Regions from separate parts of the Homo sapiens genome. Here all the other regions are linked to region 3. The links come from fine-mapping of genetic effects on gene expression. A gene starts in region 3. Each other region holds a variant in brackets. All regions are shown on one strand. Distances are between the middles of the regions.

Region 1 (4,000 bases), 550 kb before region 3:
CCTCAGGTGATCCACCTGCTTCAGCCTCCCAAAGTGCTGGGATTACAGGCATGAGCCACTGTGCCTGGACTATACAGGATCTTAATGAGGGTGATTTCAGGGTTGAAACAGATAGTTCAGCTTTCTCCATCCTGTATGGAGTGAGAGCATCCCTGCCTATGTGCATAGAACCATTCAGGGCTTTTGAAAACATACTGATCTGGTTTGACCCAACAACTGACCCACTTCTCCTGCCCTTCCCGGTCACTGCAGGAACATTCTCAGAGCATGTGTCTCATAAGAATCTTCTGGCAGGTTCGTGTTTATGGTCTGCTCTGAGTTGAGACCAGAAGCAGCTTGGATTTGGAATTTGCTTTCACAGCTCTTGGGAGGCGCTAAGCTCTGGTTATTTCTGAGTAACCCCAAAGGGCCCTCCACACTTGGGTGGGTTCCAACCCAGGTCATTCTCCTTCCCAGCCCCTCCACTTGCAGTCAGGCAGAGGTGGGCATGAGAGAGGATAGAATTCTGGGTAAATAGTTTGCTCACAGTCAGGTGGTCGCCCCCACCCAATCTGATCCAGCCCTCCCTTCAGGCAAGGTCATTATCAGCAAACAGCCAGCTGCATTTCCCTCATGGGAATGCTAGAGACAGAGTTAATAAAAATCTATCTTATTAACAGCCTGACCTACCAGCATTGATCACATTAGAAATGACGCTGCACACACAGTCCCCATTATGTGCATGGTGCTAGGCTCAGCAGAGCTCAAAAAGCCATTTAAATCCCTCCAGGAGTGACTCCTCCAAGGGCCTGAAACATCCCCCAAACTAATAACTCCCGACAAAGCACTGCCAGGGAAAATTCCTTGCGGATTTGAGATTTTCACTCTGTTAATCTCCTAACTCAATAAAGCAAACACTCCCTGCAGCAAATTAAATACTTTTATTAAAGCGTCCCCTCCCCGATTCTCTTTGACATGGGCATTGTGGACCATAACCGTCTTGGAGCCTGAGTGTCTGTGTGAGGGGCTGTCCCCTACTCCCTATCATTTTCTCCTGTTACTCTAAGAAGGCCCAGAACCCATTATGATTTACTGATTCTTAGATTCTCAAAACATCTGAGATCTCTAGCTTCCCTGAGTGGCTCCACTGGCCTGTCAACTGAAGAAACTGCTATTTTTTTGTGGGGGTGACAAGCCTCAAACAGCTCTGACCCAAGCACCTCTAACCTTGTAGTTTGCCTGGAGGAGGGCCCAGCAAAACTGTTCAGGCCCATGGTGGGCTTCTTGGCTGATGGTCAAACCCTTCTTCTGACTTCACTAGGGGCTTGCTGGTCATACCTTGGAGAGTTATCTGGAAACCAGATGGGGTTAGCTGTAGAGAGTAGAAAAGGGTGGAGCAGAAGTCGAGAAAGCTACTCTCTTCCCACATTTTCCTGTCCGCAAGCTGGCCTTCAAGCTACTCCTCTTTGGGATCTGCCTAGAATTGGGTTCGACCACTTTAACTTCTAGTCATTGCTTTCTTCTCACTGCTGGTTGGAGCCAGGTTATCCTGAGGTCCTGATGGCCTTTCTTCCAGGACCTCCTCAGATGCCATCTTCAGAAAGCCTGCTTTGCAGGGAAACCTACCACTTTGCAGATGGTAACTGCCAGACCCCTTTATGTTTTAGGAGAAGCCCCCTTCTAGAAACATCCTCATCTACAGTTTCTTGGTTCCTTCACTGGGTCTGGAGTGCAGAGGGCTTTGTGAATCCACACTCTGAGAGAATAGAGACAGTGTGGTTTGCCTTTGGTGATAGTCAGGTCTCTGGGGGCCATAAGGCCTTCTTGGCAAGGGCTCCACGGGTGTGTGTGATAGGCCCTCGTGGAGGGTCTGGTCCTGGCAACCATGGCTAGGGCTTCTGGATGCAGACCCTGTCCAGGGTGTGGAGAAGGCACCTTCCCCTTCCTGGGCCTCTGAGAAGGCCCTGCCCAGATTTCCTCCTCTCTATTTGCTCACTCTGGGCAGGAGAGGCCCTCGTTCAGGGCGGGCAGTGGCTTCAGGCCCTGGCCCCTCAGAGGTGTTAAGACATAATAACCCAGGGTGGGTCCTGGTCATTTGAAATGTCCCCCTTCCCTGTC[A/G]ATCTTGGATAGGCATCCTGGGCTCTGCAGCTCTCCCCATGTATCTCTGACCCCAACAGAATTGCTTCCAGACCTATGTTCTTCCCTGGAAGTCAAAACAGTCACTGGAAGTTAGAGACAGAAAGAGAAAGGGCTGAGAAAATGAGGAAAGGAAGACAAAGTCCATTATCCCTCAAGTGGGAAGTCAGACAGGCCTGGACTGGAATCCATATTCAGCCACCTACATGCTCTGACCCCTGGTGAGCTACTTGCTCCCCTTCACCTCAGTTTCCTATCTATAAAATAGGGATAATGAAAATTCCACCCACTCAGGGTCACTGTGCAACTTGCAGGAGACAAGCCGTGAATCGATCAGCACCGTAAGTGTTCAAAGAACGGCATCATAGGAAGAGATTCAATGGCTTCCACACAGGGACCGGGCCCAGATGTGGAGCTGGGGATTTGTTCCTCTCTGAGGCCCGCAGGGACTTATTTACTAGTACACCCAGTGGCTTTTCTTCCAGATACATGGTACGTGGAGTGGGGAAAACCTGGGGGTGTCCAAACCTGTGCCTTCTGGCTCTGCACAGCAACTACCCAGGCTAGTGAGGGAGATGAGCGAGGGAAGAGCCCAGGCCATGGTTGGGGGCAGCTGTCAGGCTCTGGGTGTCACAGTGGCCCCCATGCAGAGACAGACCTGGGCACGGTTGAGTCTATGCACTCTCAACTTGGGCATAATTGCCCCCAAGGGGGCAAAAACTGTTTCTTCGAGGAGTGAAAATATTTTAGATATTACAATGGTTTGTGGTACTCTAGAGCTACACTCGACCTGACAAATCTTATTCCTTTTTTTTTTTTTTTTTGAGACAGAGTCTCACTCTGTTGTCCAGGTTGGAGTGTAATGGCACAATCATGGCTCACTGCAGCCTCAACTTCCCCTGGCTCAGGTGATCTCCCACCTCATCTTTTCAAGTAGCTGAGACTACAGGTGTGTGCCACCACGCCTAGCTAATTTTCTATTTTTATTTTTATTTTTGTAGAGACGAGGTCTTCCTATGTTGTCCAGGCTGGTCTTGAACTCCTGGGCTCAAGCAATCTGCCTGTCTTGGCCTCTCAAAATGTTGGCATTACAGGCATGAGCCACTGTGCCTAGCCCTTATTCCTTATTTCTTTTTTTTTTTTTTTTTTTTTTTTTGAGACGGAGTCTCGCTCTGTCGCCCAGGTCGGACTGCGGACTGCAGTGGCGCAATCTCGGCTCACTGCAAGCTCCGCTTCCCGGGTTCACGCCATTCTCCTGCCTCAGCCTCCCGAGTAGCTGGGACTACAGGCGCCCGCCACCGCGCCCGGCTAATTTTTTTTTTGTATTTTTAGTAGAGACGGGGTTTCACCTTGTTAGCCAGGATGGTCTCGATCTCCTGACCTCATGATCCACCCGCCTCGGCCTCCCAAAGTGCTGGGATTACAGGCGTGAGCCACCGCGCCCGGCCTATTCCTTATTTCTAATGAAAGAAATTAAATATTAATTTAATAAAGTTGATTTAAATCAAATTAAATTCTTCTCCTGGGGGCAGAGTGGCATCATGTAAAGAAGGTGGAGAAATATCGGCAGTCTGTCTTCCTGTCCGAAGGTCCCTCCCGCTGCCTCTTACCATAGCCTTCCTTCCCCTTGGGCTCTTGGGAGCATTGGGCACTGCTGAACAGTCCAGTTAAGTCCCAAGGCCCCTTTGTCACAGGCACTGGGGATATGAGCAGTGCCAACCATTCTTACCCTGCCCCTCCCTTGGCTCCTGCGACTTCTCCGTGCGGCTCCCCTCCAGTTTCTGCTCTCCGTATATATGGAGTGCTCTCTGCTCCACACGCTTTTCTCCATGGCTCCAACTCTGCAGCCCCAAACTCTGCCAGATAGCCCTCTCCATCTGGATTT
Region 2 (5,008 bases), 22 kb before region 3:
TTTGGGAGGCCGAGGTGGGTAGATCATGAGGTCGGGAGATCAAGACCATCCTGGCTAACACGGTGAAACCCTGTCTCTACTAAAAAAAATACAAAAAATTAGCCGGGCGTGGTGGAGGGCGCCTGTAGTCCCAGCTACTTGGGAGGCTGAAGCAGGAGAATGGCATGAACCTGGTGGGGGCGGAGTTTGCAGTGAGCCGAGATCACGCCACTGCACTCCAGCCTGAGCGACAGAGCGAGATTCCGTCTCAAAAAAAAAAAAAATTAATAACATAAAATTAACTATCCTAGTTGAGTAGCTGAAAAAATTCACATTTTTATTAAGAAGTATTTATTAAGCACATAGAATATGTGATGTGTTGAGAGCACAAAGTTGGATAAAACCTAGTCCTTTCCCCCAAGAAGCTCCTCATCTTTTAGAAGAAGGTGGTCAAAGAAGCAGACAATAATAATACAAGATGATAAGAGCAATGGTGGAAAGGCTCCTGGAGGTGAGTGGGGTGTTATCTTTTTTTTGGGGGGAGCTACAAAATTTGATATAAGTCTATGAAATGAACCATAAGATCAAGGAGCTTATGTCTGAATCCAGACGCAGAATGAACCAACCTCATGACTAAAGTTGTCTAGGATGACACAGAACTTGGTTTAGACAAAAAGGTGACACTGAACTGCATCTAAAGAATAAGTAGAAATGCTCATGAAGGGGGAAGAGGACAGTGCATTCCAGGTTGAGAATGGGACGATGGGGTAGCACACAGCATGAGTCGAATCAGAGAGAGCATGGTGCATCAGGAATTTGTGTTACTCAAGTGGGAAAAGTGGGGAGAGCCACAGGAAAGATTCTTGAGATCCATGAAGCAACCTATATTTACTGGGAGTCTGCTATTGCCAGGTACTGAGCATGTGTGTGGGTGTTGGGGAGGGGGGATGGAGTATGAAGAAGAGTGTGGTGTTTCTGCCTTCAAGGAGTTAACAGATAGGCTGGACACACACACACACACACACACACACACACACACACACACACAGAGCATTCTGCATAGGCTGGAGTGATCCGAGATGGTTTTGTCCATTGTAGTTGTATATGTCTTGTGTCTGGGGTGGAAGATGGGAGTAGACCAGGGTGAAGGGGAGGGACAATAGAGAAAGGGTGCAGCCATATGTAAGCAAAGGTTCAAAGAAGGCTCAGAGGAGCCCAGTTTCCACTACCCTGGGAAGAAATCAAATTTGCTGGATAGAAGAGTTTGCATCAGGAAGGAGGCTAGGGCAGGGTGGAACTGGGAGAGTGATAAACACCAGCTGAAGTAACTTGGACTTCATCCCGTGGGCAGTAAGGCTTGATCAAAACAGGAGTGTGGCAAAATTTTAGGTGTGTAAGATGGTGATGTGGGTGTAGGAAGAGCAGCTGAAGTGTAGGGATTTTGAGGGAGGGAGCAAGATCAGGGATGGGGCAATATTATAAAGAGCTTTGAACAATAAGCTAAAGGCTTTGAAGTTTATCCTTCAGGTTACTAGTGTTTTTCCAAAAAGTTTTAAAGCAGTGGCACCTGCCCCCCTGTTTTTTTTTCAAAATAATCTTAGCAGAAGTTCAAAATATCAAACAGAAACCAGCAGCCATCAAGTTTGCTTGGTTCAAAAACTGCTGAAAGCAATGGGGATTCAAGGAAGTTGTAAACTCTGATGGCAGTGTAGGATCTGATTGACAGGAGAGAAGCTGAAGGCTAGAGGCAGGTTAGAAAGAGATGATGAAGGTGTGGATGGTGGAGAAGAAGGGAGCGAGATGGATTTGAAGGGTTTAGGAGGGAGAAGCAACAGGGAGGAGAGGGGAAGAGCCCAATCCCAGCCAGGAAAGAGAAAGCAGAGCCCTTGATGGTGGTTGTGGGGTGAGGTTCTTGGCTGCCATCAGGGAGGAGAACTTGAAAACATCTGGTCCAGTTGTGTGGCCTCTGCTACGGATGGACAGTACTGCCTGTCCCCTAAACTTTGTTCAGTGCTGAGACTTTTTGGAGGAACTTTTGGAAGAAGATTTGAATTTTGAGTCTTACAAAAAGTACAATACTGTGCATGTGTCCATGCAGTCTGAGAATCAGAAGTAAAACAACTCTTCTATCTGGGCTGTCAGAAAAGTTTTGTTTGAAAGTTCCAACACAGTGCCTTTTCTTTTTTAATTTTTATTTTAAGTTCAGGGGTACATGTGCAGGATGTGCAGGCTTTTTACATAGGTAAATGTGTGTTAAGGGAGTTTGTTGTACAGATTATGTCATCGGCCAGGTATTGAGCCTAGTATCCATTAGCTATTTTTCCTGATCCTCTCCTTTCTCCCACCCTCTGCCCTCCAGTAGGCCCCAGTGTGCGTTGTTCCCCCCTGTGTGTCCATGTGTCTATGTGACACAGTTCTTGGTATTGCTAACAAAAATAAGCTTGAGTCCTGGGCTAAAATGACCTATACAGATCCCTGACTGTCGAGAATTGTGAAGGATTTGAGATTTTGCTGTACTTGCAAGCTAACAAGCCTGACTCACAGATGCCAACAGAAGACAGAAGACT[C/A]CTGGGTCAGAGGCAAAGAACAGGTTAGTACTTAAGTAATAGCAGCAGCCTAGTATCCCTATTTTTGCATTGGTTCCTCAAACCTCAATTTCCACAGGGTGACAAAAGACCCAGGTAATTCTTGCACTTGTTGTGGGTTACATTATAAGAGAGGAATTCCAGGCTTAGTGAACTCAAATCTTTTGTGATGGGCCAGGTGCGGTGGCTCACATCTGGAATCCCAGCACTTTGGGAGGCTGAGGTGGGAGAATTGCTTGAGCCCAGAAGTTGGAGGCAGCCTGGGCAACATGATGAAACCCCATCTCTACAAAAAATACAAAAATAGTCAGGGGTGGTAGCATGCACCTATGGTCCCAGCTACCTGGGTGGCTAAGGTAGGAGGACGGCTTGAGCCGGGGAGGTCGAGGTTGCAGTCAGCTGAGATTGCACCACTGCACTCCAGCCTGGGTGACAGAGGGAGACCCTGTCTCAGAAAAACAAAATGTTTTGTGACAGACAATAAGCCTACCTGAACTTTGCCCTGAAAAAAGATACTATCTTTGTTAATACTGGGCGTAAACAAACCTGACCCTGCCCTGGAGGGAGACACTATACCTTCCAGGGCTGTTAGCTGCACAGACATCCTTGAAAAGATAGTCTGAAATAGAGGCAGGGAGTGCTCCGACTCTAAGATATGCACAAATGCCAGAGACCTGTGAAGAATTGTCTCCTAACATGACAAGGCTCTGATAATGCTGAGCTGAAGAGAAGACACATTTCTTTCACTCCATATCTTTTTCCTCCGTGGAACCCATCATACTAGATGACTTTTCCAGTTGACCTAAAAGGTCAAGTCTTCTCTCACACTGGAATTCTTTGAAGTGTCTCAGATATCTGACCACTAGGTATCTGAAGTTCTACCCTGAAGGGAAGTTCTACTTGTCTATGCATGGCTAGTTTAATGATTTTTCACTGACCATGCCTTTAAGTTACTTTGATTCTTCTTACCTCAAAGCTCTCAGCTTCTTTAGTAGCTTGAAATTTTGTAAAACTGAACCAATCCTATTTACTTGGACCAAATTGCTAAACTCAAAATTAAGAGGTCTATGAGGAACGTTCAGAAACTCTCCTAAATAATTTTCTCAAGTTTGAAAGAAATAAAATGCATATAGAGCTTTGCAGAAAGCAGTTGTAAAATAGAGCAGCCAACACATCATGGTGAAAGATTTAATGAGGCAATTGAAGAAAGTACTTCCATATCTTGCGGGTTCTTCTAAGCTACCAGTCTTGTTACTTTATAATCTCACCACACTGAAGAGTCACACTCTGGAACCTACAGATATGATGAGTTTTGTCAAAACAGCTCTGCAGATGGGACGAGGAACTGTAGTTCCTTTGAGCCAGATCTCTAAAGGGGATCCCCTTACCCGCTTCTGAGTCTAGAGGTCTCCAGCAGAGGCTGCGTCTTATTGCAGTGGACCCGCCTTGTATATCAAGTGAAACTAACTTTGCTTCTGCTGCAATAACTGATTGAACCAGGGATCATTACCCAAACCAAAGGCGACTGGGTATAGATTGGACATCATGGAGCTCAACCCATTGTGAGGTGGCTTGGAGAAAAATTTAGCTCTTAGTACAGGTGATCCACATCGGATGGGACAGAAAAACCCAACCAAATCTTCTCTATAAGGCATATAAATGTCAGATCCACAGAGGGATGTTGGTATACCCTTAGTAAACAAAGCTGTCGGTGGTTCAGTTCTCCTTGAGTCCTGGTTATCAAACCCAGCATACACTGGGACTCAAACAAACAGAAGAGTTGAGAAGAATAAACAGATCCTGCATGCTCTCACATTCCCTTGTATGCTCATCTCTATTTCCAAGCCATCCTTGAAATAGAAAAACATCTTTATGTCCTAAAACAATTTAAGGACCTTTTAATCAATGTGTAAACAGACCTAGGATTAGAGTTAAAGAGGTGGAAAGTAAATCCCACATGCAGAAGATCTGAGACCCTGGAGAAGAGGCACTGTGCTCTAGCCCAGCACTCTATAAGCATCAAGTTAGGCAGACATCTGCTGGTGAGGAGAGAAAGGTAGCTTCGCTGTCGGTACTGTCAAAGACAAAGGTGAAGACTTGCTCCCAGCTGCTGCAGGAAAACATTCTATAGTGTGGTCCACAATGTATGAGAGACTAAAAAAGTTCAAGCACATTAGGAATGAAAGCTTCTTTGTCCACACCCCTTCAGTAGAGGATCTCATCCTTTCCCATGCCTCTAAATATAAGTGAACTTGACAACTCCCAAATTTTACCTGCAGCCAGATTTCTGATATGAACAGAAACTCATGTAACTGTCCACTTGTGATCTCCGCTTGAGTTATCACAGGCATTTCAGTTTAGCATGTCTGAAATGGAACTCCAGATCTATCCATCAAATCCATTCTTCCCCATATTTCTGTCTCAATAAAGGGTACTTCTCACTT
Region 3 (5,008 bases):
ATGGAGATAAGTGGTCAGATGCACGGTCTGTTTTATAGGTGGAATTAACTGCTTGCTGATGGATTGACTGGCTGTGAGGGTGAGTGGCAAGAAGGAATCGAAGACGAGTTAGGGTGGATGGCGATGCCATTTGCTGAGACAACTGGGAAAGAAAAAGATTTGGGAAAAAAAGTTGAGTTCAGCTTTGGACATGTTAAGTGTGATATGCTAGTCACTTCAGTGGAGATGACAAATGGCAAGCTGGAGAAATAAGCCTGCAACTCCAGGAGAGGACCTCGCTGTAGATTTACTATGGTGAGTCATCAGCATGCATATGATATAACAGTCATGGGGCTAGGAAGTTAGTTTCTCCTCAGGGAGTTTGAAACTGTAACTAGTTCAGAGAAGAGGGTGGAGGGCAGCCCCGAATACCCCAGCATTTACCAATAGAGCAAACAGGGACTCAGGAGCCTGGGGAGTGAGGTTAGCCAGAAACCCTCAGAGTGGAGCACTGGTGCTCTTACTGAGAGAGGAAGGTGTGTCCAGATGGAGGATGTGATTAACTGTCCTCAACATCCCTGAGAGAAGGAGTAAGACAAGGGCAGGGAAGAGAAGAGAATGCAAGATTTGGCAACATGTAGGTCATTATGATGACTATGACAAAAGCAGTTTGAGCTCAATTCTGTGTGGAGTATAGGGAAGGAGGGTTGAGGACGTGCATTTAGAAGGGTACATAGTTCTCAAGAAGTTTTGCTGAGCACATCTGTAATCCCAGCTATTTGGGACGCTGAAGTGGGAGGACTGCTTGAGCCCAGGAGTTCAAGACCAGCCTGGGCAACATATCGAGTCCCTGCTTTAAAAAAAAAAAAAAGGAAGTTTTGCTGAGAGGCTAGATGGATTATGATTTTTGTTTATTTTTCCTGTTTATCCATATATTATTTTTCAACAATGAGTATTGATTACTTATATAATAATTTTAAGGCTGTACACATTGCAGACAGCACCCCACTGTTTGAAAAACTCCTCCTCAGTAGAACATGGCAGACCTTCATCTTCCTTCCCTGAACCTTTTCCAACCTTAGGCTTGCCATTCTCCACCAGTGCTAATGTCATGTCTCTTGAAATCTGTATTGAAGTCAGTATTTCATTCTTGCCAGTTTCCACTGTGTGTTTAAATTTGGAGTCTGGTGTCTAGCATTAGCTGGGGTTGGAGCTTCCACTCCTCTCAGCATTGGTAAGCCTCCTCACCCACCCCATCCCATGTCCAAGATCACCCAGTTACACACTTACCATCTACCCAGTTCATTCACATCATCAGTCCCAGAGCTGCAGAGATGCTCTTTTTCTACCTCCTACTTCTCTGGCTCTTAGAGAGGCAGCATGGGATAATGGGGCAAGCGAATAGGGCCTTAAAGTAGAGGGACAAGGGTTCTCTTCCCTATCTGCCACTTATTAGCTATGTGACCTCGTGTAAGTCTCTTTTCTTTTTGAGACAGGGTCTCCCTCTGTCACCTAGGCTGGAGTACAGTGGTATGATCATAGCTCACTGCAGCCTCGAACTCCTGGGCTCAAGCTATCCTTCCACCTTAGCCTTCTGAGCAGCAGGGACTACAGGCACATGCCACCATGTCCGGCTGATTTATTTATTTTTATTTGGGAAGATGGGGGTCTCACTATGTCGCCCAGGCTGGTCATGAACTCCTGGTCTCAAGCAACCCTCCAACCTTGGACTCCCAAAGTGCTGGGATTACAGGTGTGAGCCCTGGCCTTGCCTCAATTTCCTCATCTGTAAAACGGGGTTAGTGAAACTCACATCCTATCAGTGGTTTTGAGGATGGGCCGACTCTTGTATTGCCTGCTCTAGTACAATCAGCAGCTAAGGCGGCTCACTTTCCGGCCGTGCTACAATAGGTAAGAACTAGGATGCTTTAGACGTGTGACTGGGCAGTGGGAGCCCCTCACATGATCCCGAGATGCCAGACAGTGTCTCTCCGCACAGGGCGTGTGCTGGTCCAGAGGCCCGTTTTTCCAGTCGCCCCACACCCCGGGTCCGCGATCACGCTCCCCCCACCCATAGCCGAGCCTGACGCGGCGGTGGCTCATGCGCCTTTCCGTCCCAGCCTTTAGCCACGGACCACACGTCCCATCTCAGGCGCCCCGCCCCTCCCCCGCCCCCCGCCCCCGGCGCGCCTCCCCAGGCTGCCGGCTCCGGTGTCTGAGCGGCCGCGCCCGCGAGCCGTGAGCGATGATTGGCTGCGCCACGGCGGCGGGCGGTCCGTGGGCGCACACACCCTCCCCGCGCAGCCAATGGGCGTGCGCACGTCACTGATCCGGAGGCCCGCGGGCCGGCAGCCCCTCAATAAGCCACATTGTTGCATGAAACTCCGGCGCAGGAGTCCCGGGCTGCCGCTGGCAACATCGTGTCACCCAGCTAAGAAAATCCGCGGGCCCGAGCCACGCGCCTGTGAATCGGAGAGGTCCCACTGCCCGAGTGGAGCCGGGCTGAGATTCTTCTCAAGTTGAGCCTCAGTGATCCTGTGGCCGAAGTTAGCGCCTTGACGTGGGACAACCGGACACGTCGCCAGGAGAGAACTGAGGCGCCTTCTAGCAGTTGTGACGCCAAAATCACGTCTCCGGAGACCCGCGCCCTCCGCCAGCCGGGCGCACCCTCGCCGGTAGCCTTCTTTGTGCGCCGTCCGGACTCCCAGCTCCCGGCCCGGCAGCCGAGCCCCAGCACAAAGCAGTCGGACCGCGCCGCCCGCCTCCCCTCTCGCGTCTCCGCCTCGGTTTCCCAACTCTGCGCCGTCGGGCCGCGGCAGGATGATTGCCTCGCATCTGCTTGCCTACTTCTTCACGGAGCTCAACCATGACCAAGTGCAGAAGGTAAGTCAGCGCGGGCGGGGCGGCAGGCTGGGCTCTGGCAAAGTGGTCTGGCCTCCATCAGTCTCTTCCTCGACCCTGCGGGGACCCGCTTCCTCCCTACTCCGGGCCTGGGAGCGGAAAAAGTTTGGGCAGCCGGGACACTCCTGGGCGCCAGGAGCCACGTCCGCTAAGCACAGCCGGCGAGTGCGCGCGGGCGGGGAGCCGAGGTCGCGCTCCGCCGGGCGCCCTCCCTCCCTGAGCTCCGGCACGCGCTCACGCTCTCTCCCCCAGTCCCTTTTTCCCTGTTACTGGAGGGGCGGGTCACCCCGCAGGTAGTCAGGGATTGCTGCGCCCACGTGGGAGGGAGCCCCCTTCTGCAGCGCGAGTTCCGGCGAGAGCACGTGGAGAGAATCGTGGCTGCGGGAGGCTGCTCCGCTGCCGCGTGGGGCCGCCGGGGGCCGTCCGCGCTCGCGGACCGCGTGTAGGAGACGAGCGGTTCCCTTCTCCTTCCCCGCGGCCCTGCGGGGGTGGGCTCGAGGAGAAGCTGACCCGGGAAGGAGTAGGAAAGGGGCAGAGGAACTCCGCCCGCCGCGCCCCCTCCCCGGAACTGTGGCGCCCGGAACTGAGGCTCGGCGAGGGGCGTCCCCCATTAACCCCCGCCCCTCCAAATCAGCCTCGGGACCGCCCAGCCTCGTGTCCTCAGGATCTGCCTCTGAGTAAGGGGAGGACTTTGGTTGTTACTTTCTGGTTTGCCCTAAAAGTTACTCGGAGAGGCCAACGCGCCGCGTTCCTGGATTACTTGAGATTCTTGAGATTTATGTCCTTCCGAAAACGAGCTTTTTTTTCCTTAAGCCTCGACCTGTCTGTTCCCACCTGGCTCCGCAGCTCCCTATGGCTGAGCGCTCACCGCGGCCGGGTCATTTACATAAGAAAGAGCCTCAGGCCAAGCCGGGAAGCTCTCATTCCCCGCCTCGGGGTATGGGGGTGGGGATGGGGCCGGGGCCGGGGACGGGCAGGGCCAGGGGCGCGCTCAGAATTGAGTTTCTGAAATGCCCGGGATTAGGGGATTGGCTCCTGGCCCGGGCCTGGGCTACGATTTGAGGTAGGGGACAAGTTGGGAGGGGATTAGCTGGAGGGAGGTTGTTTTAAGAGCTGTGAGGCAACGGAGCGTTGCTCAGTTACATACTTGGAATTTCAATATCTGATGGGAACACATTTTTGGGAAAATGTCTTGCCATTACCGTTCTGTGCGACAACCTGCTCATATTCCCATTCTGGCGGTCCCGAGGGCATAGGAGGCATATTAATGTAGTGATGGCGCGTGAACCTCCAAGAAAAGCAGAAGTTACCCAGCCTCAAGTCTGGAGGAGCGAGCAGAGGCGGTTGATTTACTTGGGTTTTACTGTTTGTAAATGGCTGTTATTCTCTAATTCCTGGGATGTGGCTCTGCACCTTGATTCAGTTTACTTAAAAACGTGCCTTTGATTTGAGCTGGCAGGATCTTGGTAACTTCTCAACTTCTAAGAACTCTTGGGGAAGGCTATCATCTCTTGGCAAGTCCTAAAATACACAGTGGAGCGTCATTAATCTCAGGGAGTTCTCCTTTGGGTATTACCCCAGGACATTTGAATCCTTGCATAAATTTACTCTTCCTCAATCCAGAGGAGGGCACCAGGGTTGGAACCCCGTTGGAGTTATACCACTCTCAATCTTGGAATGGGGGTCATCTCTCTTCCCCCAGAGTGGAACGGGAATTAACCAGGGTATCTGGAAATGAGTTGTAATCTCTGTCTTGTGGTTTATTAACCATAGCACCCTGAGCCTCTTTGGACAGCCCGTTTCTCTTTGTGAAATGCAATAATAACAGTAGGCTTGTCCACTTTATGGAGTTGCGATTATTAAGCGCTGCAGTGTGCAACTGTCATTCCTGTAGGTTTTCTCTACCCTTGCAGCCACCTGTCAGTTTGAGAAGTGTCCCTGAAGACCCTTGGGTGTATTTCCTCTAAACTACCAATAGGGGCAGAATTGAATCAGGCCTTTAACTCAGTAATTGTCAGAACCTGGGATTTGACTCCCAGCTTAGGTGAGCGAAGCTGTTTGATTCCAGTGGCAGTTACATAGAAAGCAGAGACTCAGAGTATCTTGGAACCATCTTTCTGAGCTGCCA
Region 4 (5,008 bases), 28 kb after region 3:
CCAAAACAGACAAATACCGCACGTTTTCACTTATAAGTGGGAGCTAAACAGTGTGTCCACATGGACATAGAAAGTGGAATGATAGACCATGGAGACTTGGAAGGGTGAGGGTAGGAGGGTGGGGGGCATGAGGGTAGGAGGGTGGGGGGTGGTGTGGATGATGAGAAATTACTTAACGGATGTAGTGGGTGTTGGATACACTAAAAGCCCTCACTTCACCATTGTGCAGTATATCCATGTAACAAAATTATGTTTGCACCTCATAAATTTAAACAACTAAAAAAAACCTCCATCAAGATACAGAACATTACCATCACCCCAGAAAGTTACCTTGAGCCCCTTCCCAGTCAATCCCTGTACCTGATCCCCCCAGAGGCAATCACATTCTACTATTTTCCACATATGTGAGTTTTGCCTGTTCCAGAACTTCACATATAAATCGACTCACACAGTATTTGTTTTTTATGCAAGTCTTTTTTTATTTGTCATAATGTGGGATTTATCTGTGTTGTGTCTATCAGTGTCTCGTTCCTTTTGGCTGCTGATTCCATGGTATGATTAGAATCTGATATGAATATTGATGGACACCCGGGCAGTTTCCAGTTTTTGGCTATTTGAGTAAAGCTGCTATGAACATTATTGCACAAGCCCTTTTGTGGACACGTTTTTAGTTCCTTGTATAAACAACTAGGAGTGGAATTACTGGGTCATTCATAGAATTTGGTATATGTTTAATTTTTAGAAACTGCCAGACATTTCCCCCAAATTGTTGAACCATTTATACTCCCACTAATAATGTATGAGAGCTCTGCCTGCTCCATATCCTCAATAGCATTTGTTGTCTGTATGTCCTTGTTTCTTTTTTTCAGTGGAGAGTTAATTAAAGAAAGCATTCATTTGCGTTTGCTAGGAAACACACCATCTTGACCTCTCTGTAGGCAGCCCTAATCTGTGCCACAACCCTGCGTGTGACTGTGGTACCAGCCCTAACGCAGTTCTGTCAGGGGCCCCACCACACACATAGGGGCCACACATAGGGGCCTGGCTTTCAGAGGACAGTTCCATTTTAAAAGGGAATGCAGGGGTCGGGCACGGTGGCTTACGCCTGTAATCCTAACACTTTGGGAGGCCAAGGTGGGTGGATCACTTGAGGTCAGGACCAGCCTGGCCAACATGTTGAAACCCCATCTCTACTAAAAATATAAAAAATTAGCCGGTTGTGGTGGCATGGACCTGTAATCCCAGCTACTGGGGGGCTGAGACACGAGAATCGCTTGAATCTGGGAGGCAGAGGTTGCAGTGAGCTGAGATCATGCTGCTGCACTCCAGCCTGGGCGACAGAGTGAGACTCCGAAAAAAAAAAAAAGGGAATGCAGGAAGAATTGATAGCATTTAATGAGCACCCATGGTGTCTGTACTAGGCCATTTACATAAATCTGTTTTACTCTCCACAAAAACTTTACAAGAGAGTCATTCTCACTTTAAAAATGAGGCAACCAAGGCTAAAAAAGGATTGATGGCTGCCAAGGTCACCTGTGGGCAGATGGTGACAGTTGGGATGTAAGCATAGATAGTCCTGACTCCACGGCCATAAGATTCACAGTTTACATTGGCTTGTACTGCTGAACCAAAGTTTCTAGGGAAAATCAGATGATTATCTTTTTAAATGGATCCTAAATACGAGTTGGCTTTGTATCATTCCAATAAGAAGCTCAAGTACAACCCAACTGAAAATGTGCCAGCCGCATGTTCTAACTTAGAAATGAAGTAACTGTGGTGCCTTTATCACCCTTGTCTTGGCAAGATCGTTTGGTTATAACTATGCCTTATGAGACAGAGTGAGGGTAAGGCAGTGTCAGATCGATCATTTGACTCTTCTTCACCTCGGAATTGTGAATTATGTTCACAGGTAAGTATACCTCCATCCTCTAGCCAGACTTAAACCCTCTAGAGAGCAGGGAACCATGATGCTGATGGTGACGGTGATGATGATGATGATAAAAATTGTAGACATCGTTAGTGCCAGGTACTGTGCTGAACGCTGTGTTTGAGCTATCTCATCATTTCTTACAGTCATCCAGTGGTAGGTACGCTGAACTTCACTTTACAGAAAAAGGCAATAGATTTGGAGCAATTAGGCAACTTGCCCAAAGTCACAGTGAGCAAGTGGCAGCATTGGGATTGGAACTTGGCCAGCCAAATTGCTAATGCCTGGGCTTTTAAGCACACCACCAGTGGCACATTGGTGCTGTGCTGCTAGCACAATGTGTGGATTCTTCTCTTACTAACCTAGGCCTAGCTGTTCAGCTCATTCAACAGTCCTCTCCGAGGCTTGGTCCTCTGTGCAGCAGCAGTGTGCTAAGCTGCCTCGTGCCCTTTAAAGAGTGAAAGTTGTGCTGGGGAGATAAGGCCCATGTAGACAAAACAATTAGAGATATCGGGCCATATAATGCAAGCACATGATGTGATAAAGGGAGACCGGGCTGGTGATACGTTGCA[T/C]GGAAGCTGGTTAAACCTGAAGGAAGCCCTTATCTTGGTTGCTCTGCATTATATTAACAACTGTACAGCGGAGACATACATCCAGAGCTAGCACACAGCAAGTTAATTGGGGTACTTACGTAGTCCAGGCGATATAAATTGAAGATTGTACTGATAGATAGCCTCAGTACAGCAGATGGCACTTACATTGTCAGGCGTTGTGCCAAACGCCTTACACTTCCTTGCACTGAATCTTGACAAGGTGCGTGTGTGTATGTGTGCGTGTATATGTGTGTGTTTTCCTGTGTTCTTGTTCTGGGTTGTGGAGGGAGGTGCTGACTAGAAGGAGGTTATCGTTACCCTTTTAAAACAGATGATGAAATCTGAGTGTCAGATTTCTAATAAATTGCCCAAAGCCACATGGCTAATGCATGTTAGAGTGGGATTTGAACCCAGGTCTGCCTGCCTAAAAAGCTGAACATGCTCAGAGCTTACACAATATTGAAACATAATCATGTTTTAACCCTTTGAAGAGTGGTTTCACATCTGTGGGGCTAATTACACCTCTCTGTGACTGGCACGTATTTTGAGCTTAAGAAACACTTCCTGGGTAAAAAGAGCACCAGAGTGGTGCATTCCAAGAGGTGTCCTAGGAGCTTTAGGGTGCCAGTCATGTGTTTTACGTGTTCCACACCCCTCCCTTCAGTTGGAGCAGCTCTGTTTTTCTCTATTTTACGTTGTGGCATTTGGCCCACCAATTTTATTTGGAAATAAGCATTCTGTTGCTTAAAATGGTTTGAAAACAAATGATGTAGAAGATCAGATCACTCCATTCCTAGTCTGTACCAGACACCAGCGTTAACTGTGATTCAGTGCCTTTAATGACACGGAGTATTGAATACTTCTGTATGGCTGAGCTCTTGAATGGTGGCCGGCATTGCATTGTAATGGAGTAATTGGAATCCTGGGGTTTAAAAAGAGGCTGCCAGGTGTGGTAGTGATCATGGCGATTCCGGGTACATGGAAAATACGTGCCTTGAGACCTGTGTCTTGCTACATTACCTGCTTAGGACTTGGAGATGTATCTTTTCGGTCCTCGTTTCATTTGGAGTATATGCCATACATTCTCAGAGCAGTCCACTGTTGTGTGCTAGCAGGTGCTTGAAAACTAAAGGAAAAAAACAAGATCCCCTCAACCCAGAGTCACCCCATAGAGGATGATTGGAATGTTCAGTGCAGTTACCTGGGGCCACTGGAAATGATATTGTAGGGCAGAAAGGGCAGGTCCCTTTAGGGGCATTAAGTTATAAATATAGGGCTGGTTCAGGAACTGAATGTGAAAGTATGCGTTTGTGACTTTGACCCACCTCCAAGTTTACGGCTGCATGCCTCAGGCATTGAGTGACAAGGAAGAGCCAGAGGCTCTAAGGTTGGATCAAATACAGTCCAGTGTTCTGATTTGCCTGAGCCTCTCCCAGTTTTGGCATTGAAAGTCCCATGTCATAGGAAACCCCTCCATCCTGGGCAAACTGGGATGGTTGGCCACCCTACATGGCCCTGGAGCTCATGCCCTCACTGCTGCTCAGCTCAACTGTGGCAGCAGCCCTTGAGCTGCTTCCTTGTGCTATCCCAGCCCTCCACAGTGCCACTAGAGCCACTAGAGCCCTTTTGGAAACAGATCTGACCTTCTTAAGAACGAAAGAAAGTCCTTGGCAATGGTATTTGCTGTGCGTTTATAGCCATGTCACGTGAGCCCTATGTTGTAGCTACTCTGGACATGCCATTTTTTGGCACCCACAAATTAATGCCAACTTATAGTTATACCAAACCTCTGTCCTGCCTTACTGGACACCAGAGCATGCCACAAACCTCCATGGCCTTGACAGGGAGAAAGGGAACAAGTACCTTGATAGGATCTATTAACGGAGGAATAATTTACTGTGTTTCTTCTTTGTTGTTGTTGTCATTTGTTTGTTTTTTTTTTGAGACAGAGTCTGGCTCTATTGCCCAGGCTGGGGTACAGTGGCGAGATCTCAGTTCACTGCAACCTCCACTTCCTGGGTTCTAGTGATTCTCTTGCCTCAGCCTCCCAAGTAACTGGGATTACAGGGCTACGCCACCATGCCCGGCAAATTTTTGTATTATTAGTAGAGACAGGGTTTCACCATGTTGACCAGGCTGGTCTCAAACTCCAGACCTCAAGTAATCTGCCCGCCTTGGCCTCCCAAAGTGCTGGGAATACAAGCATGAGCCACCACACCCAGCCTGTGTGTTTCTATATGTTCACATACAACATAGTCCATGTTTCACGTAAGCATCACAACCGCTGGGAGATGTCAGCATTATGAATCCTGTTCTACAGGTGAGGTGACATGCTCAGAGAGCCCTGTGATGTGCCCACACCACACAGGTAGTGAAGCTGCTGAGCTGGAATTCAAAATGAGGCCTGCCTACCTGTCTAAGGTCCAGTGCCTAACCACTGCTCTGGCATGGGCACGTAACCATGCGTGGGCGTTACGAGAGGGCCCGT
Region 5 (5,008 bases), 46 kb after region 3:
CCAGAGATATAGCTACCCAATTAATTCTAATAAGCAGAGCTGGGGCCTGCATTTTCACAGCCCAGCAGGGGCAAGAGTGAGGATGGCTTGATTTTTGTTGTTGTTAACAATATCCCAAGAGTCAGGCGGGCCTCGTTTACTGTTCTTGAGATTTCCACTTGTAGATTGAAGAAGTCCTGGTGTTTCAGGGACCAGATGGTGGAGAGGAGGTGTCTTTGGAGCCAAATGGAGCAGTGGAACAGTGCCAATGACTTTGTTTTAAGGGGAAACTCTTGAAGGAATGGGGCCTACTTGTTGCTATACCCCAAGGTGATGCAAGTACCCCAAGGTGATGCAAGATTTAGTTCCCTTGAGAAGGGTGCTAAGGTTATAGCACTAGCCCCTTACCAACCATCTTTAGACACAAGCTAAAGCAGTGCCAAGTCCATGGTGAAATGCAATAGACTCCTACTGCTTTAGAGAGAGAAACCAGGTGGGCATCACCGCAGGGTTCACATGTTGAGAGTGGCTGACAGCAGAGACACTGTCTGTCTCCCCTAACACAAGCAGATGTAACACAAACTCTCACACACACAACTTGGTGGTAAAGCACCAAGAACAGGGCCTTGTTTTTACATAGCACATGCATAAGAAATACTTGTGTTTCTCAACTCCGTGTGTCTCTGTGTGTGTGTGTGTGTGTGTGTGTGCGCACGCACATGCGTGTGCGTGTGTGTGTGGTGTCTGGGAGAGGAGCCTCAGGGTGGCTGTGCTATATTTTGCACCCCCTTCCTCCTCCTCCTGCCCCTGCACAGGTGGACTAAGCAATGAAGAGGGATTCTGTCCCCACTGGGTGGTGAATTTGCTGGAACTAAAGGGCTTCCTTGCCACCCCCCGACACACACACTGGCCACAGTGGGTCAGACACAGGCCCACATGCTATCTTTCTGTTTCCCAGGGAGAAGGATGGCATCCGGAAGGCCCGTGAGGTCCTGATGCGGTTGGGCCTGGACCCGACTCAGGAGGACTGCGTGGCCACTCACCGGATCTGCCAGATCGTGTCCACACGCTCCGCCAGCCTGTGCGCAGCCACCCTGGCCGCCGTGCTGCAGCGCATCAAGGAGAACAAAGGCGAGGAGCGGCTGCGCTCTACTATTGGGGTCGACGGTTCCGTCTACAAGAAACACCCCCAGTGAGTCAGTGTGCAGGGCCTGGAGATGCGGAGTTCCTGGAGTACCTGGGGCTGAGTGACTCCTCATGCCAGCTCCATTTTGCATTTCAGGGGTGGTGTGGAGGGACCATAGAGCTGAGGGTCTTGGTGGAATGAAAGTTCCCACCTGGGCAAGGGGGAATGGGAGGAAGTCATATCTGGTGTGGGTGGAGGTGATTTCTGAAGGCTACTGATGACTCGGGCTCTCCGCAGAGCTCCTCTGGCTGCTGGACACTCTCTTTGCCACCCTCTTGTATGCGTTATTGTTCCTGTCTTTACTCTTAGAATTCTTGGTGATTCCTGCAGGTGCTATGTCCTCTGCCAGGGACCACCCCAGCCCAGTGAGGGTTACCAGCTTCTCTGGCTGACCTTGGTATTAAATTGATCCTGCCCTGTCCACATTTTGATCCCTCAGGTCATAGGTACCAGAATATTCACATGTCAGCTGAGACCTGGAAGATGTCTCTTTATTGTGCCTACTTATTTCCCCATCATTTTCACCTAATAAGAATGCCAGGTCAATGTGCCTTTGTTTTCTTAACTTGTCGGTGCAGGAGGCCTCAGCCCTGAGATTCCCTCTTCCTACCCAGTGTTGCAAAAACTCGAGTGTGCACGTGAATCACATGGGGATCTTGCTAAGAGGCAGATTCTGATCAGAAGGTCTGGGGTGAGTCTGAGATCCCGCATCTCTAACAGCCCCCAGTAGGCTGCAGCCTACTCCTGCACTTGGAGTAGGAAGGCCCTGGAGACCATGGCTCCAAGTGGCCACTACCCAGAGAGTTCCTGGCTGAACACGTTGTCTTTAGCTGTGCAGACACCTTTGGGATCATTGGCAGAAACTGGCAAAAGAGAGGCTAAAGTCCAGAAGAGCATCTCTAGCTTTTAATTTTGGGTCTTTCCCAGACAGCAGCTAGTGAAATGAGTGATAGAACAAGACAGATAGGTGGCATCAGAACCACCTAATACCACAGGGCTGCTCCAGCAAAGAGGCTGATGGTACCATGTTGGGCAAGGGAGCAGTGGCCAGGGGGCCTTCTTCAGTGAGGAAGAGGAGGTCTTGTGTGGCTGCATGTAGGGGACAGTGGCTTATTAAAAGGTCTTTTCCTTTCATTGGCGGGGGTGAACCAATCCTGGGTGGTCATAGTTGATATGGTTCTTGTAGTGGTTCCTAACTTGGGACAGTGGAGAGAGGATGTTTAGGGCAGCACCCACTCCTGCAGGTGCCTTTTGGCATTTGGATTAAGGCGGTGGGCAACTGTCTAACTATTTGCACCATTGACCCTAACCATGGACACCTGTC[T/G]CTTACCCGCCCTGGGGAACTGCAGTTTTGCCAAGCGTCTACATAAGACCGTGCGGCGGCTGGTGCCCGGCTGCGATGTCCGCTTCCTCCGCTCCGAGGATGGCAGTGGCAAAGGTGCAGCCATGGTGACAGCAGTGGCTTACCGGCTGGCCGATCAACACCGTGCCCGCCAGAAGACATTAGAGCATCTGCAGCTGAGCCATGACCAGCTGCTGGAGGTCAAGAGGAGGATGAAGGTAGAAATGGAGCGAGGTCTGAGCAAGGAGACTCATGCCAGTGCCCCCGTCAAGATGCTGCCCACCTACGTGTGTGCTACCCCGGACGGCACAGGTACACGGCAGGGTTGCCACCTGGCTCACATGGTGGGCCTTTGTCCTGGTGTTGATACCCTGGGAGGGATCCCTTAGCATTAGCATTGGACATTTGAACCAGAACACGTTTCTTCAGCCGTATTACTAGGGAGTTCTAGTCTTTGATAAACTCAAACAAGGTGCTCCTCTGCAAACAGTAGTAATGGTCAACACTTATTGAATGCTTACTGTGTGTCAAAGCACTTTATGTGTATGAGCTCATTTAATCTTTGTTAACTGTTAAAAAATATTAGCAGTTAATTTTATGTATTCACCTATGTTTGACAGAAAACTGAGGCGCAGAGAAGTTAAGACACCTGCCTAAATTCACACAACTAGAAAATGTCGGAGCTGGGATTCAAACCCAGGAATTCAGGTTCTAGAATCTGCTCTTGCAATCACCACATTGGTCTGAGTCAGGGTTGGCAAACTATGGCCCATGGGCTGAATCTGGCCCACCACCTGTTTTTGTACATAAGGTTTTATTACACAGCCATGCCCATGCGTCTGCACGTTGCTTATGGTTGTTTTGCACTGTCTTGGCAAAGTTGAGTGGTGGCAGCAAAGACTGCATGACCCACAGGGCCTAAAACGTTTGCTGTCTGGGCCTTTACAGAAAAAGATTTCTGACCCCTGCTGTAAGTCTTGTAACCTCAGAAATGGTGGTCTTATTCCAATTCAGAGAAGACAGTCGATGAGCAGGCCAGTGTAGCACAGTTGTTACAGGTTCCAGAGACAGACTGGGATTTGGTCCCTGCTCTACCCTGTCCTGGTCGTATGGCCCCGGGCAAGTGATTTAACTATCAGCCAGATCCCAATCATCCTTAAGAGAGGAATGCAGTGTCTCCCTCACAGGGCTGCCTAAGGGTTGAACGAGGACTGTGTGTGAAGCATGTGGCACACTGTAATTGTCCAACAAGGGAGGGTTTTCTCAGTTTAAAAGATTTCCCTTCAGCTTCCTTCAGGGAGCTGGACTCTTCTGTTCCTTCTGTATTCTAGAATGTAATATAAAGTGGCATTTGATGGAACAGGAATGGTGTATTTGGATCGTTTTAAGTGTACTGTCTCCACATTCCCCATGTTCTGCCCCAACTTATCACTTCCCTGGGCTTATTTTCCAGAGAAAGGGGACTTCTTGGCCTTGGACCTTGGAGGAACAAATTTCCGGGTCCTGCTGGTCCGTGTTCGGAATGGGAAGTGGGGTGGAGTGGAGATGCACAACAAGATCTACGCCATCCCGCAGGAGGTCATGCACGGCACCGGGGACGAGGTGAGCAGGGCGGCGCCTTCAGGAGGGGGCCCCTGGTGGACGTCACCTCTTGCCTTCGAGGACAGTGCTTTCTCTGCTCATCTGTGACCCTGGGGAGGGCTAGCTGGACCCAGGGCTGCAGCCTGGTCTTGACTCAGGTTTGTGCCTGAGCCTGCATTTCTTCTGGGTGGAAAGAAACATTGATGTTGTGCGCAGGCCCTACTGGGGGCAGCCTGCCCTGCCCAGGGCCCCTCCCTCAGTGTCCTAACTTCTCCCTGCAGCTCTTTGACCACATTGTCCAGTGCATCGCGGACTTCCTCGAGTACATGGGCATGAAGGGCGTGTCCCTGCCTCTGGGTTTTACCTTCTCCTTCCCCTGCCAGCAGAACAGCCTGGACGAGGTAACAGCACCTTCCTGGAGGGCTCTCCTGTGGGCTTTATTGACTCTAAACAAAACCAGCCAGGTATGGAGCAGGGGAGAAAGTTGAGCTAAGACTAAGGAAAGGAGGGCGTGAGTTACCAGTAGTGGGGAGGGGCTCCTTGATGGGAATGAGTAAGTTGAGGCTGGTGGAGGTTAAGTAGGTTAGCTCAGCTGTGACAGCCTTTGGGACAACGATGATGATGCTACTCAATGTTAACAACTGCCGGGTGTGGTGACTCATACCTGTAATCTCAGCACTTTGGGAGGCTGAGGCAGGAGGATTACTTGAGGCCAGGATTTCAAGACTAGCCTAGGCAACATAGGAAGACCCCATCTCTATTGAACTTATATATATATATATAGCATTTTTAAGCACTTACTGTGTGCCAGGTACTATGTTAGGTTTCTTACCTGCATTATCTCGTTTAACCCTCACAGCAACCATATAAGAGATATGTTTGAATACCCATTCTACAGAAAGGAAGATAAGCCCCACAGA
Region 6 (5,008 bases), 41 kb after region 3:
TGGGGCTGGGAGGGCTGAGAGGGACTTCTGAGCCACCTGCTGTGGTGGTGGTGGTAGCACTGGAGGATTGTGGAGATGAAGTTCTGCCTTTCTGGGTGACTGTGTATGTCGATGGGGGGGCTGGTGAAGAAATCTGGGGGGTTGGGAGTGCCCTTTATCACCCTCTCTCCCACACACATTGCACAGTATCCTTATCCCCTCCACAGAAACAGGAATGAGAAATCAGGAACTCCCCAGTCTAAAGTGTTATGATAAAGACCCTTGGAAGAAAGATACTTGGAGAGTTAATGATGTAAGGACACAAGTACAGTCATGTATTGCATAACAATGGGGATATGTTCTGAGAAATGCTTTATTAGGTGATTTCACTTATGTATAAACATCATAGAGTGCACTTACACAAACCTAGATGGTATAGACTACTACACACCTAGGCTGTATGGGACAGCCTGTTAACTCCTAGGCCACAAATCTGTATAGCATGTTACTGTACTGAATGCTATAGGCAATTGTAACACAGTGATATCTGTGTATCTAACTAGGCAATAGGAACTTTTCAGCTCTATTATAATCTTGTTACCACCGCAGTATACACAATCTGTCACTGACTGAAACATTGTTATGCGGCACATGACTGTGTCTTATAGTGCCAGTTGTCCTGAGTTTCTTTTTCCTAGGCTAGCCAGGAAGTAACACACAAATTCAATCATGACTTTACCCCAGTGGCAGAGGTCTCTGCTAATGACGGAGGTTTGAGGGGTGTGGTGTGAGTTTCAGTTTTAGTGGGAAATCAATATTCACTTCTTGGTCCCTTTCCAGAGTTTCCTGGTCTCATGGACCAAGGGATTCAAGTCCAGTGGAGTGGAAGGCAGAGACGTTGTGGCTCTGATCCGGAAGGCCATCCAGAGGAGAGGGGTGAGTGGGGTGGCAGGAGCTTGGGGTCTGTGGGCTTTTCTGGGTCCACCCTGAAGACTCCCTGAGTGTCCTTGACTCATCATTGTTTGCTTACGTGGAGCTTAAGGAGAGTTCTCTTTTCCCTGACACATGTACTCAATAATTTTGTATGCGATCTGCTGCTTTGGGGGTTTTTAGATTATCAAATGGATAAATAATCTTAGCCTTGGCACAAGAAAAGCTCTTTAGTTCTTAACCTGAAGAAGACTTGAATGTGATTTCCAAGTAAGAAAGTTGGAATGATGTTGACATGGGAGTGGAATGGCTCAGAGAGAGAATGAATTAAAAGTCTTATCACAGGAGGAGTTATGGGGAGGGAGGGGGGAGAGAGAGAGAAGGAGGAGGAGGAGGAGGAGGAGTGATATATAGCTGGTGTTAGGAAAGTCGCCCTCTGTGATGATGAAGGTCAGAGCCCTCCCATTTGTCTCCACAGGACTTTGATATCGACATTGTGGCTGTGGTGAATGACACAGTTGGGACCATGATGACCTGTGGTTATGATGACCACAACTGTGAGATTGGTCTCATTGTGGGTGAGTGAACACCGTGCATGAAGGGCCCGTGCTGGCCAAGGGATGGGGGTGTGGGCTGGAAAGGGAGAAGGGGCCCATGGGCTGGGTGTTCCTTTGTAGTTCATATTAGAAGATAATGGTCCAGTCACTTTGGAGAGCCGAGCAGGGACTCATGGAGTTGGGGGTGGCAGAAGATTAGACCATGTATTGTGATGCCCCCAGAGTCTGCAGTGAGAAATCCCAGCCATCCTGGCCGGGCAGTCTCGGGACAGTAGTATAAGAGGGAAGAGGGGTGGGAAGGGGCCGGAGCAGGCGTGTGCATAGCCGTCCCTTGTTTTGGCAGGCACGGGCAGCAACGCCTGCTACATGGAAGAGATGCGCCACATCGACATGGTGGAAGGCGATGAGGGGCGGATGTGTATCAATATGGAGTGGGGGGCCTTCGGGGACGATGGCTCGCTCAACGACATTCGCACTGAGTTTGACCAGGAGATTGACATGGGCTCACTGAACCCGGGAAAGCAACTGTGAGTAGGCCCTTCCTGTGCGAGTGGGCTTGGCGGGGGCCTGGAGCTGAGTCTGGGGCTGGTCGGGGCCAGGGGGTTGTTTCTTTACAGTCTTACATCCCCAAAGCTTGCCAAGGTGGCCACTGGTCATAGGAATGTCTGTGACTATAAATTGCTGAGAGGATCTAAAACAGAGAGCAAGCGGATATACCAGATTATAGCTAATAATGTGTTTCCTTCACAGGAGTCATTTTGGAAGGTTCTATTCTGAGTGTAAGTGGGTGGCCCTGCTCTTTCTTTCCACCTTCTATTTGTAAATTGTCCATGGGAACTGTGAGCCACCTAAGGAAAGTTGTGTTGAGGTGGCCAAGATTGGGGTCTCTGAAAGCTCCTTTCATAGCTCCAACTCCATCACCACCCAGAGGACAGGCTGACAGCTGGCTGCTCATTGCTGCTCCCTGGGGTCCCAGGGCCTCCTGCTGCAGCTGCAGGCAGACCCATGGCCCCTGGAGACATTGGCTGAGGAGCTTCCTTGGCCTCCTTCACTTGGACCTTGGCCCAACTATGTCCTGGGATGGATTGGAGGAGGGGCGTCTAGCATTTTGGATCCTGAATATTGTATTCTCCAGCCTGGCCTGCCTTTGTTTTTAGTTGCTTTTATCTCTTACAAAACCTTATTTCACCCTCACAAACATTTGCCAAATGTGCGTGTGAAAGATCTTGAAACAGGGATTGCTTCAAGGTCTGAAGCAGTTGCAAAATATTTTGAGCAATACAGATCATCTCTGGTCTTGTGACTGTTGTAGAAAAGCTTTTCGTGCAGATCTCTACTTGGACAGGAAAATTGAACCCTATAAATCAAGTCAGTGGTGGGTAACCCAGGAGAGTCCTTGCTTTCGTTTTTTTTTTTTTTTTTTTGAGACAGAGTCTCTCTCTGTTGCCCAGGCTGGTGTGCAATGGCGCAATCTTGGCTCACCGCAATCTCTGCCTCCCGGGTTCAAGCGAT[TCTCCTACCTCAG/T]CTTCCTGAGTAGCTGGGATTACAGGCGCCTGCCACCACGCCCAGCTAATTTTTGTATTTTTATTAGAGACAGGGTTTCACCATGCTGGCCAGACTGGTCTCGAACTCCCGACCTCAGGCGGTCCGCCCTCCTCGGCCTCCCAAAGTGCTGGGATTACAGGCGTGAGCCACCGCGCCCGGCCTGAGAGTCCTTGCTTTGTCAAAGCATGGTTTATTTATCTAAGTCACAAGCTTGTTTCACATGTTGAAATGAGTCCTTTACTTGAAATTTCTGAGGATCATACTGGTTGTGTCTGCCATGGCTGATGAGAGGTTTATGAGCTGAAAAGTCACTCAGTGCCTGCCTCCATGAATGAGGCACACCCAAGTCATTCCGAGGAACTAAAGGCCCTTTCAAATGTCAAAAGACAAATTTGCCAGCCAGACCATGACAGCACACCCCCGGCTTATCCTTTGACACCCACCAAATTGTCATCCATGGTAGCCCTGAAGTCACTACAGACAATTTTTGTCCCCTCTAATATATTTCCAAGTAAGTATCTTCCAAATGTTGACTGGAACAAAGTGTTTTTAAAAACTAGAATAAAAACTTAGCAACACGGAGTTCCTTACTGTTGAAGCCAGGCTCCCATCCACGCTGGTTTCCTTCTCCTGAAGCTCTGCCTGTGTGGGTGCACTAACATTTAAAATGCGCGCTGTCATCTTCACAATTTTGCCAGCTCTCAGTTAGCCCTGATGCTGCTGTACTCGGCCTTGGGTCTTGAGCAGGCTGCTTCCTGGAGGCCTGGGTTTCCTCTCGGAAAGGTAACCTTGGAATCCCTTCCACATCTCAGTCCTGGGCCTCCTCCTCGCTGGGGCTCATCCTAGTTAGTGGCAGCAGGCCCATGTGCCTCCTCTAAGACACAGGTTCTTTCTCAAACACCCAGAAATGGGCCTTTTGTCAAAAAGAATTATCACCAGGGCTTGGTTTCCTCTCAGTTCTAGTCAGAAAGACCAATTATGAAAGAAAACAGTGCCACCTAGTGTTAAAATTAAATCACCGGACCGCACTGCTGGTTTGGGGGCCGTCCCCTGCCTTTCTAAAACATCTTGTCACCTGCCTGCTTAGAAGCCTGTTTCACTCCCAGACCCCTGAGACCTGTCATTTAGAGCTCGGAGCCCAGTGCAGATTCCTCTATCCCAACCTGCCTTTATAATGTTGCCCCATCATCCCCTGCCCCAGGTGGTTTTCACACCATTTTCTCTGGAGCCCATGAACGGCTTGCAGGGGTGGACAGTATGAGCTGATGAGTTTCTAGGCCTGTGCTACATATCTAATCAGATCGCCTTTTTTCTCTTGTAAATAAATATTGGGCTATGTAAGATATTAATTTTAAAAATGATTTCCTGGCTAGAGAAGAATTTTAAAGATTACCACCCTACGCATAACTTTACCTAAAATACAGGCTGTTCCAGAATGTTCCATACTCCCTGTGTGTTTCATTTGGCTGCTTAAGTTTCATTTATTCTTCTCCATAGGTCAAGGCCCATCAGCCTGCAGGGACAACCCAAGCCAGCCCCTCTGAGCCGTCACCTCTCCACGTATCTTACTCCTGGGCCGTGCTGCACACATTAACCCTTAGTTGTGAAGTTGCACGTGTGCGCATCTTGCTTCAACAGGGAAGCTATGAGTACATGGGCAGTGGGGACTTTATGTTTTTGGTTTGTGTCTTCCGGCAGGTTTGAGAAGATGATCAGTGGGATGTACATGGGGGAGCTGGTGAGGCTTATCCTGGTGAAGATGGCCAAGGAGGAGCTGCTCTTTGGGGGGAAGCTCAGCCCAGAGCTTCTCAACACCGGTCGCTTTGAGACCAAAGACATCTCAGACATTGAAGGGTGAGCTTCTGGCCAGCCCCCTCTATTTGCTGGATCACCACACGAGTTGACGGGTAGTTGGGGAATGAGGAGGGGGCTGTACCTTTTGACTCTTCAAGTATAGACTGCAAGAGGGTCTCACATGACGTGGACCATGGCGGGCC

Alleles and levels. Alleles are on the strand shown, and positions count from the first base shown. SD is a standard deviation of normalised expression in the study named. Not every link is listed here.
With allele C in place of A in region 2, the expression in spleen of the gene that starts at base 2,346 in region 3 is higher (moderate effect, 0.43 SD a copy in GTEx).

The links.
Region 1: its variant is fine-mapped to the expression of HK2 in whole blood (INTERVAL, PIP 0.98).
Region 2: its variant is fine-mapped to the expression of HK2 in spleen (GTEx, PIP 0.93).
Region 4: its variant is fine-mapped to the expression of HK2 in stomach (GTEx, PIP 0.91).
Region 5: its variant is fine-mapped to the expression of HK2 in whole blood (TOPMed, PIP above 0.99). The same link has a PIP of 0.9 or more in blood mononuclear cells.
Region 6: its variant is fine-mapped to the expression of HK2 in whole blood (INTERVAL, PIP above 0.99).

Annotation. Positions count from the first base shown.
Region 1 is chr2:74,280,917-74,284,916 of GRCh38, forward strand. The region is part of intron 8 of SLC4A5 (solute carrier family 4 member 5); the gene reads right to left. Among named protein-coding and RNA genes, the nearest start is that of SLC4A5, 60 kb to the right of the region's middle. The variant A/G (reference allele first, on the strand shown) is at 2,098.
Region 2 is chr2:74,809,941-74,814,948 of GRCh38, forward strand. No RefSeq gene overlaps it. Among named protein-coding and RNA genes, the nearest start is that of HK2-DT, 22 kb to the right of the region's middle. The variant C/A (reference allele first, on the strand shown) is at 2,547.
Region 3 is chr2:74,831,782-74,836,789 of GRCh38, forward strand. It overlaps HK2 (hexokinase 2), which reads left to right and starts at 2,346. Exons shown (of 18, transcript NM_000189.5): 1 at 2,346-2,862. The coding sequence starts at 2,800. It overlaps HK2-DT (HK2 divergent transcript), which reads right to left and starts at 2,206. Exons shown (of 1, transcript NR_185897.1): 1 at 874-2,206. RefSeq lists silencers at 1,838-1,907, 2,088-2,317, 3,238-3,487 and enhancers at 3,064-3,940, 3,718-3,787.
Region 4 is chr2:74,860,063-74,865,070 of GRCh38, forward strand. All of the region lies in intron 2 of HK2 (hexokinase 2), which reads left to right. Among named protein-coding and RNA genes, the nearest start is that of HK2, 28 kb to the left of the region's middle. The variant T/C (reference allele first, on the strand shown) is at 2,500.
Region 5 is chr2:74,877,751-74,882,758 of GRCh38, forward strand. HK2 (hexokinase 2) reads left to right here. Exons shown (of 18, transcript NM_000189.5): 9 at 938-1,171; 10 at 2,515-2,819; 11 at 3,961-4,109; 12 at 4,370-4,489. Among named protein-coding and RNA genes, the nearest start is that of LINC01291, 29 kb to the right of the region's middle. The variant T/G (reference allele first, on the strand shown) is at 2,490.
Region 6 is chr2:74,872,457-74,877,464 of GRCh38, forward strand. It overlaps HK2 (hexokinase 2), which reads left to right. Exons shown (of 18, transcript NM_000189.5): 5 at 820-915; 6 at 1,388-1,487; 7 at 1,810-1,993; 8 at 4,710-4,865. Among named protein-coding and RNA genes, the nearest start is that of LINC01291, 34 kb to the right of the region's middle. The variant TCTCCTACCTCAG/T (reference allele first, on the strand shown) is at 2,979.